Linked DNA regions of Homo sapiens: regions 1 and 3 are each linked to region 2. The links come from fine-mapping of genetic effects on gene expression. A gene starts in region 2. Each other region holds a variant in brackets. All regions are shown on one strand. Distances are from middle to middle.

Region 1 (2,759 bases), 71 kb after region 2:
ATCCCCATCAAGGCCATCCCTGATTTGTGTACTTATGATGACAGTTTTCTGGCAGATGCAAGGAAAGTGTCTTGAGGAAGGGACACTTCACACACAGGTGTTGCCAAGGCCGGCAGCAGTGTTGGCTGTTAGGGTTGCCTGCCTTTCGTCTTCTGTCCCTACCTGCAGGGAGAAGAATTATATAGGTGCAGGCGCCCTTCCCGTTGCATGACCAGTGTCCTGAGGAGCTCAGTCCTATTACACGCTGTGTTTTTAGGTTTTACTGATTGGGTTGTGGTTTCAGCAGAGTCGATGAGATGATTTTGGAAGGCACGCAGATAGGATCTGGTGGGATCTTCATAACGACTCTCTAGGCTGCCCTGGGACATACACAGGACTTCTAGACTCCTGTAAAGAGTCTGAATTTGGGGACCATAGTGGTGCCAGTTCCCATCTATTTTTGAGTGTTTCCAGTGATGGCTCCATAGCGGCAGAGCATCCAGTGAAGGGTTGGGATTCGTGGCAAGTCAGAGCCTCGGCTGGAAGAGCCCTCAATGATCCTCTGATTCCAGCTTTCCCCTGCCAGCCTCTCCATGGGTCCTCCATGGACAGATGCTCATTCTCCATCACACAACTCTTGGCCCAGACAGCTCCCATCAGGACGGGCTTTCCTCCCTGGAGCCTGGGCTCCACCCCAGAACTGTCAGCTCTTCAGCTCTGGTCTAGAATGACAGACTCTTCAGGTTGGAAGGGACCTCAGAGGCCTGTCATTGCCAGATTCTTCCAGAGCATCCTTGCAGGGGGTGTCTTCTCTCTGCTTGGATTCCTCCTACTCTGGGGAGCTCACCACTCCCTTCGCACTGTTGCTGCCCAGAGAGCTTCCGTTGCTGCCCAGAGAGCTGCCTGCCTGGGTCAGGATCCTGCCTGTCCTGGGTTGGAGCTCCCCCAGACCCAGGTCCCTACAGGAATCTGGTTCCTGTGGATGAAATCCAAGGTGGTCTTGGAGGTTGTGGCTTCCGTTGCTGCCTAGAGAGCTGCCTGCCTGGGTCAGGATCCTGCCTGTCCTGGGTTGGAGCTCCCCCAGACCCAGGTCCCTACAGGAATCTGGTTCCTGTGGATGAAATCCAAGGTGGTCTTGGAGGTTGTGGCTCCAGACTTGAGTCCTTCATGCTGGAGACAAGGAGTTACCAGCTGTGCTGGAGCCCAGGGACCAGAGCAGAGCCCAAGAGTTTCCTTAGTAATTGGCTGAGGGAATCTTGGTTTGAAAGCCTTCCAGATCCATTCAGAAACCAAACCAGCAGCCACAGCGTTGGGGAGAGGAGGGGCTGGGAGGCCCGTGGGGCAGCTGGACTTTGGGTTTTTCCCAGGACTGTTAGACGAATTCCAGGAAGTTAGCTAAGCCCCCAACTTCCTTTTTTCTAAGAAGCACAGTAAGTGTTTATATATGCTCTGGAACCT[C/T]CTTTTTAGGATATCTATAGCCCACATAAAGAAGGAAACATTTAATTGTTAGGACCAGAAAGGACTCTCTTTCTCCCTGACTGTTGCTCCATTTTGCAAACCCAGATACAGACCACTTTTCTGCCTTTTTTTCACGCAGCCTTCTAATGTTTACAAACATGTTAAGACGCATGTCATACATGTGCACAGTGAAGTTTTGTAGGGGTCAGAGCAGGACTCAGGCAAGACTGCTAAGGTTAGAATCCAGGCTGAACCACTTATCGTGTGGTTGTGTGGACTTGAGCAAGTTCCTTAACCTCTCTGGTCCTCAATTTCCTCCTCTGTAATGCTAGCACCTACCTCATTGAGGTGTTGAGAGGGTTAAATGAGTTAATTCATGAAAAGCCATTAAAGCTGTATTTTAAGGGCATGTGAAGGTTTTAGAAATATCTAGTACATAGTAAGCATTCACTAAGCATTGGCTTATTATTACTTTATCACTTGATTTTTCTCAATAAGCCGATGTGGCATTTTACTGATTAGGGATAATAAAAATAGGGAACAAAGGCTGGGAGAGGTCAGAGCATTTACCCAAGGTCACATGGCTAATAAGTGACACAGCAGGGATTTTCAGCCCCCGTGCCACACCCAGTGCTCCCCCAACTGTCCAGAGCTGGCCCCGGAGCTTTCTGGCTGGACCACATACTGATCTGTCCTGGGCCACTTTCTCTGAGCCCAGCTGGGGACTCAGCATAGTCCCTCTCCCTACAGACGCCCAGAAGTGTGAGCTGATCTGCCAGTCGGCGGACACGGGGGACGTGGTGTTCATGAACCAGGTGGTTCACGATGGGACACGCTGCAGCTACCGGGACCCATACAGCGTCTGTGCGCGTGGCGAGTGTGTGGTGGGTGCACCCCCAGCCACCCCGACTACCGGCACAGGGAGACTGGAGGGCTGCACTGTAGCCCCTCCTGCCTGGGAAGATGAGCATTGCCTCACCGGCCCACTCGCAACACCCTGTTGGTCCTCAGCATAGCCCTGGGGTGCTGGAAGGGGCTAATTATTGCTCAGCCCCATTGGAGGGGAGAGGAGATGGCAAGAATCCTCATCACGCCGGGTGTAAGACCTCACCCAGGTCCCACGGTGAATTCGTGCCAGAATCCTGTCCAGGGACATCTCCCAGGCCAGAGGTCTTCTCCTGACCAGGGCCTGGGGATGGGAATGGGAGCCCCGGGGTGGCGGTGGGGGCAGGGGAGCCTCCTCCCACTGACCTCACCTCTGGCCTCAGCCTGTCGGCTGTGACAAGGAGGTGGGGTCCATGAAGGCGGATGACAAGTGTGGA
Region 2 (2,759 bases):
CAGAAAAGGGGCAATCCTTACGCCATGACTTTTTCCTTCTGTCCCGCAGGGTTCCCACTCTGCAGCTTGGAAAACTGAGACCCTGAGAAGGGAAGCCATTTTATCCAGAGATCATTTGGTGGGCTTGGGTTTGCAGAGGGCCAGAGCTGTGAAGCTCCAGCCTGGTCATCTCCCAGCCTTCTCTCTCTCTCTCTCTTTCTCTCTCTCTCTCTTTCTCTCTCTCTCTTTCCTATCTCTCTCTCTCTTTCCTCTCTCTCTCTCTCTCTCTCTCACACACACACACACACACACACACACACACACACACACCCTCTAACTTTCTTGCTCTGTCATCCCTCACACACAGAATCCTGTCTGGACCTTGACTTTGCACATCATTTTTTTTTTTTTTTGAGACAGGGTATTGCTCTGTCACCCAGGCTGGGTACAGTGGTGTGAGCTGAAGCTCAGCTCACTGCAGCTTCAGCCTCTCAGGCTAAAGCAACCCTTCCGCCTCAGCCTCCCAAAGTGTTGGGACTATAGGCGTGAGCCACTGCACGCAGCCAACACACATCTTAAAAGACCAGAAAGAGGAGAAAGAGGAACTCTATTCTTCCTGAATTTAATATAGATCAATTTGGTTGTGGCATTTCCAAATAACTGGATGCTCTGATGTAGCTTGGAATGCTTGGAATATAATATACTTTAGCTTTCTGAACCTGCTTCTTAAATGCACTGGTCCTCCAAAACCTTGGCATCATTTCCAAGATTCTTTATTCCATGGTTATTACAAAAAAATCTCCTTTCCACAACTCCCACCCCTGGATTGCTTGAAATATAGTTTATTTGCAAGTTATTAGTTACATATTTACAGAGTAAAGCAAGAGCATGGATCTTCTGTTGGGTTGTTTGTACTGACTCCTGACCTGGTCTCAACACCATTGCAAGACTAGCATCAAGTGCTCATCTCTCAGACTCTTGGTTCTTTCCACCTTGGGATGCCACAGTTGCTACTGGTGTCAGGGATGGAAGTGGAGGGCAGTTATCACTTATTGAGCATCTATTATGTGCTGTAGTTAACACCCATTTCACAGATAAGACAACTGAGGCTCAGAGCTAGGATTTCAATCAGGGCTGTCTGACTCTGAAGCCAGGGCTCTCTCCTCACCGGCTCAGCCCTGCTCTTGGCTAGGACACAGGTCAGTCGTGCACCCTGGGCTGGAGTCTGGAAAATGGGTAGATCCAAGGGGTCGATGGTTAGTGAGGGCATCAAGACCATAGTGAAAGAAAGAGGGAGTCTCCCTCTACCGGGAGGTTCACTGTCCACCACACTCCCAAATGCAGCCGGACACCCCTTGGGCTCCTGGCTCTGGAACAGAAACAGAGAGCAGGCCCTGCGGCCAAGAAAGGGGGCGGAGCAGCCATAGAAAGCGGCTTTGGGCCACCACTCCGGGGATCCCAGGCGTCTGAGGGGACAATCGGTCCGTGCGCCAGGAACCCCTGCTCTGTCTCCGCGTGGCACTTCCGATCCCCGGCCGCAGGCAGCTGCACTCCCCAGCCGCGCGCCCCGCCCCCGGGCGCCCGGCGCCCCAGCTCCGACCCGCGCCCGGCCCCGCCCCGCCCAGTGTGCCCACCCCCGGCCCGTCCCGCCGCCCCGTCGCCCGGCTCCCGCGGAGTCCCGGAGCGTCACTGCGCGGGCGGGCTGACCGACCAGCCGGCAGTTGGCACCGGGTGCGCTGGCGCGTCAGTGGCCCCGCTCTCCAGCCGGCAGCCTCGCGCGCCCGGAGCCAGCGGTCCAGGCGGCGGCGCCGCGCAGGGGACCCGGAGCAGGCGGGAGGGAAGCAGCTAGGCGGGGAGGCGGCTGAGGCGGCAGCGGCGGCAGCCAGCCGGTGCTCCGACAGCCCGGGGCGCACCCTAGCCTCGCCGCCCTCAGCCTGGGACTTGGGGATCGGGCGCTTGCCCAGCCCGCGTCCCAGCGCGGCCACATGGCTCCACTCCGCGCGCTGCTGTCCTACCTGCTGCCTTTGCACTGTGCGCTCTGCGCCGCCGCGGGCAGCCGGACCCCAGGTGCGTGCGGGTTGGGCGCGCGGGGGCCCGTGGGGTCCGGGGTGCACGCGGTCAGGGTGGCCCAAGGTTGCCCCAGCCACCCGGGCAGGGTTCCCGCGGGTGGGAGGCAGTATGCACACTCTGGGCTGATTTGCTGTCTTTTCTTCCACTGTGCCACGGCACTGTCCCGTGATTTCTCTCCCTTTCTGGTACTAGAAGTAGACAGAGACCCCAGGAGAGAATTTGGGAGCATCGAGTCTCTTCTCGGGAGCAGCGCATCTGTCTCTTTGTCTCTCTGTGTTTCTTCTTTCCCCTCTTCCCCAATCTGTTTCTCTGTCCTGTGTGTCTTTCTCTTTCAATGTCTTTTCTGTCTCCAACTTGTGTGAGCATGGGTGCAAGGGGTGTGTGTGTGTGTGTGTCTGTGTGTGGCTGTTACATACCCAGCATAAGGCTAACAGGTGATTGCCTCCTACAGCAGAGCATGCGGGGCACTCACGCTCCTGCACAGAAACACACATCCTTCCACTGCCCCCAACGTAGCACTGTCAAACGCTGTGGACACAGGTCTCTTGCATACAGACCAGATACACTCCACTCCCGCCCTGCAGCATGGGGTACCCTCCTGGTGGCTCTGAACATGGGGAGGAGTCACCGGTCATTTCCAGGCAGGGTCCCTCCTTGTTTGTGAGCCTTGTTCATGTGCCAGAGTGGGTCCCCTCTTGCAGCAGTCTTAG
Region 3 (2,759 bases), 100 kb before region 2:
TAAAAACAGCTAAATGTGAGTGCACCTGGCTGCTAATATGTCTTTAGTGTCAGACAGACGTTCTAGAACTGGTACAACAGGCTGAGGTCCCTGCCCCTTCAGAGTAAGGGTGGGCAGGCAGAGTGAGTTGAGAGCACCTGTTCTTGGCACTTCCAGCTCTAGAGCAGGCGGGTTTTTGCAGACACGCATCCCCAGTTTTGCCTCACCCTCTTACACTGGATGTCAGGCTGAGCTCCTCCTTGAAGAAAGCAACGGAACCAGCGAATTCTCACTAACATATGAAGGATTGCTGCATCTAGGGAAACAGTATAGAGCAAAGTGGAATTGGGGGCCTGTGAAGGAGCCTGGATCTCAGCCTCCACTTTCTCCCCTAACCCCTGTGGGCCCCACCTGACCCCTTTGGGCCTCTGGTTGATTGAACACACCTCACCCCTGGTTGAGTGCTGGCATTTAAAGAGTCAGTGGGGAGGGTGGGGTAGAGACAGCACTGACTCCAGGCCTCTTCCCCCATGCTTGCAGGGTTAGGGGAACAAGGTTGTAGTTCCGAGGTCAGCTGGGGTGGGCAGAATGGAACCCAGAGCCCCCACCGCCCCTAGGGTTGGTGTTCTCCCCAGACTAGGAGAGAAGGCCCCGGGGGTTCTTTCCCAGCCCAGCAGGGTATGGAAGTTGTCTTCTCTAGGTGCAAGAATGCTCTGTGTGGCTTCTGGACACCAGTGTAGAGCTGTGTACACCGGGGTGGGGTGGAGGGGGGTGGGGGTGGGGGTGGCTCTGCCATTCTCTCCCTGGGATGTGGGGACACACAGGAGTGAGTGGGTGTGCCTGTGTGTGTTCCCAAGTTCCCCTGGGCCTGCTGTAGCCTGTGGGAGGACGCTTAGCAATGACATGAATGGCACTGACCCACATTTCAGTAGCTCCTGCTGGTCAGCAGCATCTCAGCCCTCATGGTAAATGAGTGAACCCAGCACAGCAAAGGAGCAATCAGCAGAGTTAGGGAGCCTACCGAATAGGAGACGGCATTTGCAAACCATCCATCTGATAAGGGGTTAGTATCCCAAATCCATAGGAAACCCAAACAATACAATAGTAAAAAGCAAGTAACTCAAAAGAACACACACAAATGACCCACAGGCATATGAAAGAAATGTCCGGTATCACTAATCACCAGGGAAAGGCAATGG[A/G]AACCACCTCACACCTGTTAGGATGGCTGCAGGAAGAGACAGAAGAGAAGTGCTGGCGAGGATGTGGAGACAGGAAACCCTCGCACCCTGTTGGTGGTATTGTCGGTTAGTATACACGTTCTGGAAAACACTGGGGTGGGGGGTCCTCAGAAAACCAAAAATAGGACTGTGTATGATCCAGCCATCCCACTCCTGGGTACACATGCAAAGGAAATGGAATCCGTGTGTCAGAGAGGTGTCTGCACCCCATGTTCACTGCAGCATTATTCACAGTAGCCAAGACATGGGATCAGTGTGTTCATCAGTGGATGAATGGATAAAGAAAATGTGGTCTGTATACAATGGGATACTATTCAGCCTTTAAAAAGGAAATCCTGGCCAGGCGCAATGGCTCACGCCTGTAATCCCAGCACTTTGGGAGGCCGAGGTGAGTGGATCACTTGAGGTCAGGAGTTCGAGACCAGCCTGCTCAACATGGTGAAACCTGAAACCCCGTCTCTACTTAAAATACAAAAATTAGCCAGATATGGTGGTAGGTGCCTGTAATCCCAGCTACTTGGGAGGCTGAGGCAGGAGAATCACTTGAACCTGGGATGTGGAGGTTGCAGTGAGCTGAGATCACGCCACTGCACTCCAGCCTGGGCCATGGAGCAAAACTCCATCTCAAAAAAAAAAAAAAAAAAAAAAATCCTGTCATTTGTGACAACATGAGTGAACCTGGGGAACACTATCCTGAGTGAAATAAGCCAGGCACAAAAAGACAAGTATCACATGATCTCATATGTGGAGTCTAAAAAAATCCAACTCAGAGTAACATGGTGGTTACCAGAGGCTGGGGTGGAATGGGGTGAGGTTGGGGAGATGTTGGTCAAAGTTCACAGCATTTCGGTTAGAGTAAGTTCAAGGGATCTATTGTATATCATGCTTACTACAGTTGATAACAATGTTGTGTATTTGAAAATTGCAGAGAGAAGATTTTAAGTGTTCTCGTAACTTGGTAGCTATGTGTCACCAAATGATAAGTATGTGAGGTAAGGTGTATGTTAAATATCTTGACTTAGCCACTTCACAACGTATATATACCTCAAGACATCCTTTTGTACACCGTAAACATATACAACTTAGCAGCTCATTTTAAGAAAGTACCATTTAGTCTGATCTTTCCTCTGTGTTAATCTAAACTAGTGATTTTTTTTTTTTTTCGATGAAATCTTTTTCTGTCGCCCAGGCTGGAGTCCAGTGGCGCGATCTTGGCTCGCTGCAACCTCCACCTCCTGGGTTCAAGCGATTCTCCGGCCTCAGCCTCCCAAGCAGCTGGGATTTTAGGCACGCATCACCACACCCAGCTAATTTTTGTATTTTTAATAGAGACAAGGTTTCGCCATGTTGGCCAGACTGGTCTCAAACTCCTGACCTCAGGTGATCCACCTGCTTTGGCCTCCCAAAGTGCTGGGATTACAGGTGTCAGCCACTGCGCCTGGCCACTAGTGATGTTTTGATACATTCTTTGTTATGTCTCTTTCTTAAATACCAGTACATATTGCTGAATTATAATATTAAAAAACGAGTTAATATACATGC

The links. PIP is the estimated chance that this variant, and not a neighbour inherited with it, causes the effect.
Region 1: its variant is fine-mapped to the expression of ADAMTS14 in monocytes after R848 (Quach 2016, PIP 0.95).
Region 3: its variant is fine-mapped to the expression of ADAMTS14 in cerebellar hemisphere (GTEx, PIP 0.93).

The regions. Positions count from the first base shown.
Region 1 is chr10:70,741,361-70,744,119 of GRCh38, forward strand. It overlaps ADAMTS14 (ADAM metallopeptidase with thrombospondin type 1 motif 14), which reads left to right. Exons shown (of 22, transcript NM_080722.4): 13 at 2,188-2,321; 14 at 2,706-2,759. Among named protein-coding and RNA genes, the nearest start is that of TBATA, 43 kb to the right of the region's middle. RefSeq lists enhancers at 1,173-1,467, 1,707-2,510. The variant C/T (reference allele first, on the strand shown) is at 1,438.
Region 2 is chr10:70,670,839-70,673,597 of GRCh38, forward strand. ADAMTS14 (ADAM metallopeptidase with thrombospondin type 1 motif 14) reads left to right here and starts at 1,668. Exons shown (of 22, transcript NM_080722.4): 1 at 1,668-2,046. The coding sequence starts at 1,965. RefSeq lists a silencer at 255-549.
Region 3 is chr10:70,568,432-70,571,190 of GRCh38, forward strand. It overlaps PALD1 (phosphatase domain containing paladin 1), which reads left to right. Exons shown (of 20, transcript NM_014431.3): 20 at 1-19. Among named protein-coding and RNA genes, the nearest start is that of PRF1, 33 kb to the right of the region's middle. The variant A/G (reference allele first, on the strand shown) is at 1,179.